Linked DNA regions of Homo sapiens. The protein of the gene in region 2 interacts with the protein of the main gene of each other region in a biochemical or structural test. Each region holds a gene or a part of one and is shown on either strand. Other genes may lie near its edges.

What was found. Proteins that work in one complex are often made in the same cells at the same time.
Region 1: the proteins of SORBS2 (region 2) and DLGAP1 form a complex in vitro, tested with the Homo sapiens proteins (one study listed by BioGRID).

What each region holds. Positions count from the first base shown.
Region 1 is NC_000018.10:4,452,054-4,459,196, forward strand, and holds the start of DLGAP1 (disks large-associated protein 1), read right to left. Parts: upstream 3,255-7,143; 5' UTR 2,953-3,254; intron 1-2,952. UniProt on the Homo sapiens protein: Part of the postsynaptic scaffold in neuronal cells.
Region 2 is NC_000004.12:185,619,954-185,627,235, forward strand, and holds part of SORBS2 (sorbin and SH3 domain-containing protein 2), read right to left. Parts: intron 7,067-7,282; coding exon 6,879-7,066; intron 4,542-6,878; coding exon 2,961-4,541; intron 199-2,960; coding exon 110-198; intron 1-109. UniProt on the Homo sapiens protein: Adapter protein that plays a role in the assembling of signaling complexes, being a link between ABL kinases and actin cytoskeleton. Can form complex with ABL1 and CBL, thus promoting ubiquitination and degradation of ABL1.

The sequences.
Region 1 (7,143 bases), on a different chromosome or scaffold from region 2:
TTAATTTAAGAAAAGAGAGGTAAGTGTGATTTCTATAGAGATGAAATCTACATAAAAGTAGATTTTAATTGGATGCTTCCTGAGAGGAAACCAATTTCCTCTCCTCTGATAAACAGTGGAGCAATTTGTGGGAATGGTCATGAAGGTAACATGAATTTGAGCTGATCATAGAAATTTCACTATAGAAATACACATTAGATAACATTTTACTATTATCTCTGAATTTGAAATATTACGAGATCAGAATCAAAACACTGAATTCTTTGTTTCTGAAAGAGTTGATGTTCAAAGAATATGGTATTCATCTCGATTAAGTTGTAGATGAAACTATTACTTTGCTGCATATTAGTGAATATTGCTCATATTCACTAAAATGAGTACTTTGTAAAACAAGTCCCCCTCTTCCAAGTTTTAATTTTATATTTAAAAAAAATCAATCTAAATGGCTATATGGAACAAAGGCACACATATTTAATAGAGTTAACTCAAAGTGCATGCAGTTTCTATTCCCAAATTGGGTTGAATAGGACACTTAAGCTTAGAAGGATTTAAAAAGTAGAACACTACAATTAGTTTTAGGCTATTTCTCTATATGCGCTACATAATATTTTGGAAGGAAGGTCTTGTCTCCATTTGCTTTCACTAATCGCTAATATGCTTTTACTGGGTTTTTAGTCCTGGCAGAACAAAGCTTATGTTGATGGAGAAATTAAAGATGCTAAACCATGAAAATTCCCTCCTAGGGAAAACTCATATACTCATTATTTCCCCAAAGCACAATTGCTTGTGTGAGATTTAAGAAGCCTTGTCAGAAAATTATTTTGACATATTTAAAAGAATGTTAACCAGTTCCTTTTGCCCATATTTATATTGCCTGTAATGTTTGAGATAAAGTATTGTATTTGCAGACTAATCTTAGAATGAAATATAGAGAAATAGATAGCTATAAATTTAAAAAAATCTATGTATGCAAGTACATTCTTCTTTACTCACACAAGGTAACTAACATTTTCTCTTAAGTAAATTAGTTTTTTAAAAATTCACAGAATTTTATATCTGCGACTAGGGGTATTGCAAGGCACTAACCAACTGAAACAACTTTACATTTAAGTACTAAATCTAAAGGAAATTAAGAACAGGGCTACTGACACCTGACTTCTATGAACTTTCTTGTTTCATGCCAGAGTATGAATTTTCTGAACCAAGGGTAGCGTTTATAACTTAAACTTTTTAAAATCATACATTTTGCATAGACATATTCATTATTTCTTTATAGGCTTGAATTTCCTTTTAAAAACTTAAAGAAAACTTTATATTCTTCTGGCATGAAATAAATTAGGATCTTGTAAAATTTCTTGCCTCCATGTCATTTCCGTTCAAGTTTTATTCAAGGAATAAAAAGTATTGCTTTATATGCAAAATGACCTAGGCCAATAGAAAGTCGTTTCCTGAACTGAAATCGTGCTATAAATAACAGTCAAAGGGCTGTTCTTTTTAGAACAGCTCTTTCAGGGTAAAAAATAATTTGCAGGATGTTTGCCTTAGGACCTAAAATCGCTTTCCTAGTTCTCAGCATTTCTCATCTCCATGTCTAACCACATCTTAGACTGATCTATCCTCACCTTCTACGAAGCCATTCACGAAGACCACAAAAGCTAAAAGATCTGTCTTTAATTGGTACTTTTATTATATGTCTTTCCTCGTAATTCCCTAACTTCACGTGTTATGGAAGGAGGCAGGGAGCATTCACCTCCCACGACCGGGAGTCAGTCTCTGTGTCAGGAGTAAGGAGTGAAGAGTCTCGCCTGGATCCACAAAAGACGTGACATCTCCCACCCAGCGTCCCACTGCTTGCCGCCTGGCTACCTTTAACCCCTTGCCCTCCGCACATCCTCCCCTTCTCTAGCAGAAAATTCCGCAGCGCTACGGTCGGGCTGGAGGCAAGCCCTGCAGCCGGGGGCGAGCGCGGCACTCGGACACAGGCACTCAGTGTCTCCGGCGCCGGCAGCCGAGCCACGGGCCACCCCTTCCCACGGCCTCCCGGTGCCACCCAGCGAGGCCGGGACAGCGCGCCTTCCGCAAAAAGCGCAGCAGCCGAAGTCCTGAAAGCAGGGTCTTCATCGCCGCGGGCCCTCCGAAGGTGCCTCTCCCAGCTGCAGCCGCCCCTCAATGAAAGTGCAATGTGTTATCTCGCCCAGCCCAGAGGAGAGGTCCCTGTTTGGCCTTGGTTCCAGCCCGGCTCATTCAATTCGCTGAATGTCGGGTCTCCCGGCCCGCCCCGCGATTCTCCGGGAATTGGCCTTGGCCGCGGGCAGGGGGCGACTCTCCAGTGACCTCCTCCTTGGACCCCATTTCTCTCTCTCTCTCTCTCTCTGTGCCTGTCTTTGTGTCTCTGTTTCTTTGGCTTTCTCTTACAAACGCACGGGGGAGTTGGTCCTTTTCCACAATGCCAAAATGTCACCCAAAAAGCTAGTGCAACAACTTGCTTTGCAAACGACCCAGGAGCCTGCCGAGAAAGCCCTGCGGGGAGCAGCCCCCTCCTCCCCTGCAAGGTGCATCGGGGGTGGGGTGGGGGTGCGAATTTGACCGGTGGACATGACCGGGACAGGGGACCGGTGTTCTCCTCCCCTCCCCCTTCCGGGACCCTGTCGCAATTAGAAATCCTTCCCCTGCCTGGGTCCCCGTGGGGAGCCGCGAGGACCGCATGGCCGGAGAGGACGCGCTCGCCCCCGAGATCCCAGGTTACCCGGAGGGCCCGGGAGTGCACCCCGGGCGGCTGAAAGGGTAAGGAGCGCGGACTCTCGAGCCAGCGGCCGGGGGAGCCCAGCCCGCAGCCCCTCCGCGGGCGAGGGAAGCGGCGACCGCGCGGCAGGCAGCAGCCAGGAGCCACCCAGCGCGCCGCGACCGCCGCCGCCGCGCACGCCCCAGCCCCGCGGCGCAGCCCGGCGTTACCTGGCCGCGTCCCGCAGTCCGGCCCTCGCTGGCTGCGTCCGTCCGTTGGTCCCACGAGCCTCGGAGGAAGGAGAGAGATGTCCCCGCGACCAGGACCGGCTCTCAGCGAGGTGACGGGAAGGACTCGAGAGAGGAGCCGAGGCGGCGGCGGCCGTTCGCGCCGCCTATGCTGCCGATTCCCCGAGGCGGAAGGTGTCCGCGAGGCCGTGTCCTGGAGATTGCGGCGCCCGAAGCGCAGCGCTCGCCTCTGGAGCGGAGGCTGAGCGCCGGGACGCGGCGGGCTGGGGCTGCAAGGCTGGGCTGGTGACCCGCCCCTGGGTGCATGTTAATACGGTGGGGAGGAGGAGTCCCGCGCTTCCTCCGCCCAACCACCGGAGCCGGCGGGCGGGCGGCGGCCGCGGCCCGGAGCCAGCCGCTCCCACCCGCCCCAGCTACTACGGCGCGGCGCGACCGCGGGCTCCGGCCCCAGCCCAGGCACGTGCGCCCAGGCCGCGGGGAGGCGCCGGCGCCTCCCGGAACGCGCTCCTGGCCTGCGAGTGCTGCCCGCTCAGTCTCCGGGTGGGAAGTGCGCTCGCCCCGGACCGAGGGGAAAGCCCAACATCCCCGGGATGGAACAGAGAGGCGGCCACCCGTGAGTGGGCGTGACCCATTGGTTCCCTTGCGCAGCATCTGTGGAGAATTAAGCTTTCCCCTCCTCTCTTGCCAGCCGTTGTTCCTAATCTTGTCTTTTTTAAGGGAGGAAAGCAGGAGAACTCATGACACTTTGTATCACAGGAAATCAAGTTGGTGGACAGAGGGTTTGCTGACCTCTCCCGTCCCTCCTCAGGGTCCCTAGGAGAATTTTTGAAGAAGTAATCGGCAGCAAGGAGATGGGGGCAATAGAGAGTCTCAGACTCGCAGGGACCCATGTTCGTCCCCAGCGCCACTACTTTCAAACCGTTATCCCTCAGAGCTGTTTCCTCACCTCCACAACAACTCTCCCGGGTTCGATGACACTATATATCCCACCAGTTCATCTTGGTACAGGCCAAAAGGTAATTCAAAAAGCGAAACGAATCTCATCTCCTGACCTGTGCCCTCGGTAAAGTCCCCAGGTTCCACCCCAAGTACACTTGGAAGCCAGGCCCCTCCACACAGGCTGAGCACCACGCTTCCACAAACTGAAAACAGAGAGAATCCACTTGGTTTCAAAGTTAGAATAGGGATAGCGGCGTGAGTGGGTGAATTGCGATGTGGGTCAAGGAGAGAAAAAAGTAAATCAATTAAGTATTTATTGAGCTCCTGCGCTGCCCACTTAATTGCAAACGTTACAGTAGTTAAAATAATCGTGGTTAATCACTGCCTTATTATTTCCTTCTATTAAAAAAAGAAATGGCATCTTCATGGAGAATGTCCTTTGTTCTACAGCTTCCTGAGGGAATATTATGCCAAAAAGTACATAATCTTTATGTAATTTTATCCAGAAGTTATAGCATAAGATTTAGCATCTGTTTTGTGTGATGTCTAATTATAAATATTAATAGAATATCCTTTTAAAGACAACACTTCTAAAAATGCAAGGAAGTGAAAAACAGTTTTCATAAAAATATGACTCAGATAAATAACCTCTTTCCTGCAATTTCACTGAGTGATTTTCCATTAAAGAAAATAACAATTACTGAAACCACTAAATGGAGGTAAATTCTCAGCATTGTAATATCATGAGCACCGACGCTTTAGCAATGATCTAAAAGATATTCTCAGACAATTCAAGAATTACTATAGGGGCCCAGCTCAGTGGCTCACACCTCTAATCCTGGCACTTTGGGAGGCCGAGATGGGCAGATCACTTGAGGTCAGGAGTTCAAGACCAGCCTGGCCAACATGGTGAAAACCCATCTCTACTAAAAATTCAAAAGTTAGCTGGGTTGGTGGTGGGCGCCTGTAATCCCAGCTACTCTGGAGGCTGAGACATAAGAATCACTTGAACCCGGGAGGTGGAGATTGCAGTGAGCCGAGATCACACCACTGCACTCCAGCCGGGGTGACAGAGCGAGACTCTCAAAAAAAAAAAAAAAAAAGAATTATTATAGGGACACTTCAAATCGGATTCCCTGAAAAGGCAAAATACTGATATGTGATAATAGCCTTCATAATTTGGAAAATTTGCCTTTCCAGATTTGTAAATATGTTTAATTAATAGATTTTCTTTTCTAATTTTTAAATTGATATATCACAGTTGCACATATTTTGCAGGTAGATACAATAATTTGGTATATATATACAATGCATAATGATCAAATCAGGGTAATTGGGATATCCCTCACCTCATTTATCTTTTCTTCGTATTGGGAACATTAGAATTCTTCTCTTCTAGCTATTTTGAAATATACAATAAATTAAACTATATAGTTCCTCTGCTGTACTATTGAATACTAGAGCTTAATCCTGGTATCTAACCACGTTTAATCCATAGATTCTTCCAATGACATCACATAAATAAGAAGGTCAGTATCATTGTCAGGCCCTAACTCAAATTAGATGAATTCAGTGAATAAAATTACTTGAAGTGGAAAATCAATTTTCTTACAAAATTGTTATGGTAGATTTAACCCAGCAACAATAATATCGATGTAACATTGCTATTATTAGGTTTTTCTGACTGTAGGTGACAGAAACCAAAGTTGGCTAACTTAAGTGAAAATAATTTATTAGAAAAATATTGAAAGCTTCCAGAATTAAAGAGAGGACTGGAAAGCAGTCTTGGAAACAGTCAGGATTTGAGGCAATACCGATGGGCTAGGAAGCAGGAAAGACAGCAGTTTGGTTTGGTGCTGCACAGTCTACTTGAGAAAATACCAAATTTTTCTCACCTTCCATTACTGAATCAAGATTCAAAATCACAGGGTTGAGTATTTATTTGCTTGGCCAAACTTCATGGAGGCACTGACTCCCTGGCTATATATACCAGGACAGGAAGAAGAAACGTTTGATTTCTCGACTTTCAGGATGGAGGGTGGGCACCTGGATTTATGACACTTCCACAAGAATACATAATTGAAGATAGGTAATTCCTCAAAATAAAATCAGAGAGTGATGAATAAGGAGGATTTGATGCTGAGATTTTTTAAAAATGATATACATCTGGTACTTTGGCCATGAAATTTATATTCTAATTCTTATAGTTACTTGAAAACAAACAATGATATTGTGTAAGGAAAACTGATAGCACTTCTTTTCGTTGTTGTTATTCGTATGCTTGTTTTTAGTTAAGAGATTTTTAAATGTTGTTTAAATATCCTATGGCTGGTTACCTTATTTGTATTCTCATAGCACCTGTAAGCACTACTGCAAGCCAGAGCTTGTCATCTGGGCTCATTTCATCACTGAATAATGGCCATGAAAAGATGTCCAAGTTCTAATCCTTGGAACCAGTGATTGGTGCCTTACCAGTGATTGGGCTTCCGGGTTACCCTAGTTGGCCCAATTGTAAACATAAGGTACTTATAGGAAGGAGTCAAGAAAGTCAAAGGCAGAAGAAAAAGATGGGATGATGGAAACAGAGGTTGAAATCATGCACTTTGAAGATGGAGGAAGGTGGTCATCAATAAAAGACTATAGGTGATCTCTGGAAACTAGAAAAAGTGAAAAAAGGATTCTCCTCTAGAGTCTTCCAAATGGAACACCGGTCTACTAACATCTTGATTTTAGCCCAGTTAAACTGGTTTTAGACTGACCTCCAGAGCTATAAGATTAAAAAATTTGTGTTGTTTTAAGCCATCAAGTCTGTAGTAATTTGTATCAGCAGCCACAGGAAACTAATACAGACAGCTTACCCAGGCGTTGGGAGCATGCTTTCAAAAGCACCCTATTGGTAGTGGGTGGCATGGTAGCCCTCACTATAGAAGAAGCGCAGAAAAGTATACCTACTTTTGGAGAAGCTAACTCGAAGCTGGTTAAGTTAGCAAACATGTTGGTGAGAACAGGAAATTGGAAACCATGGACAGATAGGGTTCCTATGCAAGAGTTTCCGATTCTCTAGTTACATCAAAATGGCGGCACTCCTAGACCACAAAATCGTCAGACAGGTAAAATCCCATGAAAATGAAGCGTAGAGGGTGGTGGGGGGCAGCCCTGCAATACGGGCTGCGGCGGTACACGGGGACCCGGCTGCAATGGCTGCGGGGGTGGCGAGCAACTACTAAACTTCCT
Region 2 (7,282 bases):
TTTCACATTTCCTGTCCGAGTTCGTTACTGGTTTGGGATAATTTTTGGCTGGTAAGTGCTGTATCAAGTGTGTTGCTGTGAAAGACTCCAATGCTATTAAATTAACTACCTCTTTTTCTGGAGTTCCTCTTCTTTCCCTTGGTGCACTTCTCCCCATGTCAGTCAAAGTGGATGAGTAACTTCTAGGGGACTCACGGTCTATTGGAAAGAACAGGGCCAGTCATGGTGAGTATCCACTTAATTACAAGCCAACCTGTTCCGCCATTTTCCCTGGTGGCCACTACTTTTTTCCCCAAATTTGGAGAGACACCGTTATCGAACACATGGGCATAAAACTCATAGTTCATTACAAAGTTGTGAAATAAGACACAAAACAAGAGCATTTCAAAAGGAAAAATATCTGAGGTTGCAGAATTATAATTGTCTATATAAATATGATTACTACATTGCTGATTAATTATATTGCCACACCCAGTAAGACAATTTATAGTTAGAGGGATTTTTCATATAAATTTTTTCCAAAGCTTTCTGTTTCTATGCCTTTGCTTCTTATTTATAATTACTATTATAAGATTTACAGAGGATGGAGAATTTGAAAATAGCAACAATTTGTAGAAAAAGAAACATTTTGTGGAGTAATTTAAGACTGTAGTAATGAAAAAGAAAGAGATAAAACCAAAGAAAGTATGAGGATGACAGGAGGGTGGTGATGAACATTCTCCTTCTGCCTTACTCTCCCCTCTTCGCTCTTCCTCTGTTTTTAAATACTTATTGAATCTCAAGATGCCATGCTGTTTATCTACGACCTTCCTTTGTGCCCAGATGATAAACACCTTATCAGAAAGCAAAGAAACAAAGAGATATTGTTTCTTCTTACTCCAAGCAAAAAAGGGATAAACAGAAAGCATCATGTCAGTTGCCAAATTGCTTATGAAATATTGAATTATTTTTGTTCATCTTAAAGCAAAGCATAAATAATCACATTACAAAATTTTGATTGCATGTAGTTCTTAATAGTATCTTATACCTTTTGCACTTACGTGACTTACATATGGAGATGTAACTAGACATTAAATGTATTCCAGTAGTCTATGTTATAGAATTTTATCAGTACAACTGGGTCAATATTTGTCAATTCTTTCTTTTATCCCTTAAATATATCTAGTTATCCAGACTAACAAGAAGCATTAAAAATAAAATTTATTTTATCCATCTATGAAAGAATTTAAAGTGCTGATTCATAATAAGAAAACATTGTTTTAGGATTTTGACTACTTTGATGATGTAAATTCTAAGTTAATATACTTTTATGATCATAGGGCCTCATAATGATCATAAATTTTAAATTACTTTTTCTAACCCAGGGAATATAAGCTATTTTTCACTTGGGTGAAACACAATTGGAAAGTAAATATTTTACTAAAAAACAAAATACTTTTAAATGCATTTCAAAGCCCTTCCAAGTTACGTTTCAAAAATGTACTCCTATCTGCACATAAAATTGAGAGATGGTTATATTAGGATATTAAAAGCCTGGAGAAGGTAGCTAATTTATTAAAAAATGAGATTCTGACACATTTCAATTAGTGAAAATTTTGAATTGTAGAAATTGATTTTTTAAATTCTAATTTATTATTTTGAAGCATGTTGCTTCAGCCTAAGGGTAGGCAAAGATAAACGTAAGTGTATAGTGTAGCAAAAGTGAAAGCAAACATAAAGACTAAGTAGATTTGTGCAAGTTAATTAACAATCGAGCCATATTTGACACTAGTATGAACTGTGAATTATGTCTTTTTTTTTGTCTGAGATTATATTTTATACTATAAATTCTGAATTATTAGGGGTTTGAATCTCTTTTCTGTTATCTACTCTCTGTGTGACCTTGGACGAATTTCCTTTCCTCTCTGGGCCCAACTTCCAAAATTGAAAATGGCTTTTGAAATAACACCCATTTCATAGGCCTATGCCAGTTTTATTAGATAATGTATGTAAAGCACTCTGTAGTGTCTGGTGCATAGAAGTTTCTCTGTTGACCAACTTTCAGCCCGGAATGTTCATTCCAGCCTCTTAAAATTTACGTAGTGAACAGATGTGCTGTAAGAATTAATGAAAATAATTGGTCACAAATATTAAAACACCCTGGGCTGTAAGTTATATAAATCTCAAAAATAGTCCTCTGCCTTTCAATTGCTATTTATTCTTGTGTTGCCACTTCAAAGTTATCTATGAAAATAGAGTTTAGAGTCACTGTTAGCCTGAATAGTGTAATTCAAATTTCAATACAGGACTGTTTTAGCAGAAAGAGAAAGTGAATGAATTAAGTAATGGAAAAGAGAAAATGAATACACTAAATGGTGGAAATGGGACTTTTATATATATAGCTTAAAGATACATTCACAAAAATTTTATCACCATTGTGTCCTTGAAATGGAGAAAGCTATTAAACAAACCCTAATTTCTTTGTGTCCATCAATTACTAATCACATATTTCAGTTTTGCTTCTTGAATGTTTTGATATAGTATCTTCTATATAGAATGTGACAAATTATTTATTAACTGAATGAATATAAAGTTTTAACGTTAATATAAACATTTTTAAAAGGCTATTTGTGGAACTATAGGTTTTGATTCATGTCACAACGTAATTTATTGTCTCAATGTGAGTAGTGGTTGTTTCAACCCTAATGCTGAGCTACAAAATGGCCTTCCCTCTCGTTTTCGAAAGAGTAAATTTTTGTGAATTGATGATCACTTTAAGCCACACATCAAGTCCAAATATCACATGGGCAAATGAGAAATATTCAGTAAGACATATTTGCACAACAAGTTTTTGCTTCACAACACATAACGACGCCAAATGGTCTCCCAGCTCGGGAGTGATGAGATGTTGGAATGGAAAATGAAAGAGCTGGAGGGTGGGTCTCTGAACCACAAGGAAAAAGAAAGAAAAGCTCATCCACCTTGGAGTGCACCGCCACGGTCTTGGTGGTGGCAGCTGCTGTTGGCTGTGTCCACGTCTTGGAAAGAGGCACTGCGGGGCATTCTCCCGCAGTCATTCTGGTAGGGTGGACAATGAATAGCACCATCGGGAGGCAGTGGGTGGAGAGGCTGGTGCAGGGGGCTCCTCCTCAGCGCTCTCAGGGATGAGTTCCTCTCGGGAACATCTGGCAGCAGCTCACTGATGAGGCGGTGCAGGATGCTGTTGTCCGGCAAGCTCCCCCTTTTCTTTTCAGCTTTAATTTGGTCACAGATGTCTTTAAGGGCAGAGTCCAGAGCCTCAAACACAGATGCTTTACATTTTGCCTTTTCAGTCTGTTTCTTAGGAGCCGAATTTTTTTTCCTCCGGAAAGGCACAGGACTGACTAGAAAAGCAAGTTTAGAAAGGCCAGGGTCCATTTCTTGCCTTCTGGGCTCCTCGGTGTTTTCGTGTCTGGCTCTTTCGTGTTTTAACATTGTGGTAAATCGAGTGTAGGAGGCCGGGCACCTGCCTTTGCAGGAGCTGATGAGGTGGCGGTGGTGGTGGTGGTGGTGATGGTGGTGGTGGTGGCTGGATCCGTAAAAGCTTTCGGAGGATGTGAAGGAAAAGTGATCAAAGTCACTTTCACTGCAGAAGGATGACCCCTCTAGGTGAATGTAGTCACTGTGGTCGGACACAACCCCGTCCTGGTCGCTGTCGGAAAACTCCACGTGTGCTCGGGGCTGCTCATCGCTGGTGACTTCAATGTGAATGGGCACCAGGGCGTTAGACTGGCAGCCTCGCCGGCCCCGAGCGGGGGGGCCGCTTTGATTTTCTTCCTCCAGCAAATACTCAATGGAAAACCGCCTCTTGGGACATAGGCCATTTTGCGGTGGTTCTAGGGTTACGGGAGACAGCATGTCATCCCCTAAATTTGGCATGGATTTGGACTTCTGGATCAGCTTTTCGAATTCGGAGATGCGTGTGGGCACCATGTCCCGGGGCACCTCCTCCGTGGAGCACTGGCTCCAGGCGCGCAGCAGGTCCTTGTGCTGCTGCTCGCTCTCGTACTGCAGAATCCTGGACTTCACGGAGCAGATCACCTCGGAGTTCATCAGGTCCTTGCGGTTGATGCGGTGCATTTTCTTGTACATCTTCAGGAACCCCGGGGCGTTGCGGGCTGACCTGTGTCTGATCCTTGATCTGCCGTTACTGCGAACCTCCGGGACGTAGGGGGACCCCCACGCCATGGGGCAGCTCTCCTTGGAGTCCTCCTCACATAACAGGGAGCCCATGCTTTCCGACTTGACTTTCGGGTCCGGGAAGCTATCGCAGTCGTCGTTTAGGAGATCGTCACAGCTCCGGGATTTGATTTTGGGAGAGACGGTTTCTTCCGTGCTGCTCCAGATTTCTGCGTTTTGCCGGGCCATTTGCCAGCCGTTCTTGAAACTAATGGCTCTTGGTGAGTCCCGAGGGACATCCAAGTGCTGTCTGTAAGTGCTACAGTAATCTAACTCACTGGAGGGGTTGCCGTTGAGCCCTGAGTAACTGCAAAGGGATGGACATATTTTGCTATCATCCCCACCTTTTAATCCAGAGCAGCGTGGTAGAAGAGAGACATTTGGAGAAGTTAAAAGGTTCACAAAGAGAGGAGAGCATGTCAGTAAAGCATCAGACAGCATAGCAAGGAGAAAGCAGTTAGTGTGTTTTAATCTAGGTGCTGATTGTTCACACATGGAGCTTCAACTCTAGAGAAGAAGGTCTAATTCTAAAGCGAGCTAATACTTTTTCAGTGAATGTAGCTTTGCAGAGAGAGTTGACAAAACTGTGTATAAGAAGCAACCGACGTAAGCAAATACACCTACTCCTACTGCATAATTCATACACCTTTCTGACAATATTGTTTGCCAAAACACAATAGTGCTGCTTCAGCTGATAGCATGATCTGGTAGTGAAGGTTTAACAATTAGTGTCAAAAGTGTTATACCCTTACGCAATTTAATAGGGCCGGAATTTGAGCCTCATTTGATTCGTAATGATACATAGGTGAAGAAGGGTTTATACATTTACATCGAATTAATACTCTCATGACTATATCAAATAATTTTTTGTGGGTTTTAGATTTTAAAAGCTATAAGGCAAAGTATTCTCCAAAATTGCAAAATCAAAATGCTGTGAACTATTGCTGCTAACATTTTTCTAGAAAAAAATAGCTAAAGCTCTTTAAACAAACGAATTTACCTCTTAAATTGCTCTACCTTTAACCTTTTATTAGGTACAAAATTCTCATAGGAAAACTGAATATAATGCAAAACTTTCATCAGAGGTGCATATACCATGCTTTTTTTCTCGGAAGAGTTCTTTGAAAAATCATTTGCAATTTGATAATAGAGATCTACATTTGGCCTCAATTTTGAATAGCTATGGAAATGTTCTTTTGCTTTGCTGAGTCAACTAATAAATGAGGAGCCAAATTATATCTAATAGGACATTTTCTTCCTAGAAATAAAATCTAATGGAGGAAAATATCTCTATTCAATACTTATACCTTACAATGTTCTCTAAATTCTTTAAAAGTAGATAAGCACATTAGGTAGATCTGTACTGTCTGGGAAAGGAAGTTGATTTAACATTCCCTGTGATGAAACAAATATCTACATTTATCAGAACCCTTTTAACTTTTGGCTAGTATCCAAGAATAATAGGTCAATGGCATTTCATGACCTACTTGTTACCTTAAGATATTCATTTGAATAAGTGAGTTGAATCTGATAAGGCATCTCTGCTCCTCAGAGGAAAGATGTGATGGATGGGGCTCACACGCCCTGAACCATCAGCTGATATCACAGCTTTACAAGGCCTTAAAAGGGCTAGGCATCCACCTACTCAGAGTCCAATCATCACGACCAGAATACCTTTTGCACACAAATCAGCTACCACTTTTAACTACCATGTGGCAATGGTTTTAGTGACTATAGTTGATAGGTGTAGCTGAATTGGTCTGGTTTTATAGAAACTTACATTAGAGCTCAATTTCTTTACACATTTCAAAATCTCTTTCTCTTCTCTTTCAATCCCAAGATATTAGAGGAGATTGTGGGGTCCCACATTTGGTAGAGCCCTAGCTCCCTGTAGGGGCTGGTTCAATCCTCACTCTCCATCTCAGAAATATTCCTGTCCTCAAGGAATACCACTAAATGGTCTTCCAGAAACCAGAAGGAGTGACTTCTTTCAACAGTGAGCTCCCTACACTTGCAGAGAGGAGACGGGCCATCCAGAAAAAAAGGCTTGGTGATTCCTCAGTGATATCATTATGGTTTGGGACCAATTAGTCCTGACTGTGAGCTGCTGTGAATTGACCACTGTGTTACATGGCAGGAGGTGGATGCTCCACTGTTCATGTGAAGGTGGCCCAAAATATACAGCAAATGGCTAAAGAAATTAATAGGTCGGATTTTTTTAAAATCTAGAATTGAATAATTTTTTAAAACCCTCCAAACCAATGTATATTTTAGCCAACAATTTGCTCTGTTGCTGCTTGTAATTTTTATCCTATAAATTTGACTAATTTGCTAGTTGTAGAAACATTAGAAAATTTTGACTATATGTCAATGTTTACAAAATACATCTTTTAGTAGCCTGATGATACATTATTTGATACTTTCAATTTGTTTAGAAAGGGATCTATTTGGGGGAAAAAAGCATTAGCAGATGCTAGTCAGAGTTCTTTAAGCAACCTAAGTGGCTCGCCAGCTTGAGTCAGTCTGGGTGGGAAGAAGGCTATTGTTCTAAAACTATATTTTATTCCAGACACTGTAGGTGAGAGCTGGCACATGCCACTATCACTGGGCCAGCTTTCACACAGTGCTCTAGGCTAAAACGTAAACTAGTAAATTGTTGTGTTTTCATTTACTATGCTCACCTTTTGCTCTTGATGGGGAAGAAGGAGAAGAGCTAGTGAAAGACTTTGTAAGAGTGGTGCTTGATCCTGGGAGGTCCACTCGGCCTGGGCTAGTCCTGCTCGCACTTTGATCTCCCAAGCCCCGTGGTGGACCCACTGCAGGCTCGCTCTTCCTCCGCTTCCTGAAGTCACTGGCCATGCTTGCAGAACTGAAAGAAGGAATCAGATCTGTTTGATTGGCACTGGAGGAGGTTCGGGTGTGCACCAGAAAAACCGGTGGAACGTGCTAGTGACAATGGCGTAACTCCTAAACCTCTATCCCCAAAACTGCATTGCTAGGAACTCATCCCTTGATGTTCAACATGATTTCTCTAGAAGGATCTTTTAAAAAATGAATAGACCTTATTATTTATTTTGAGATGGCT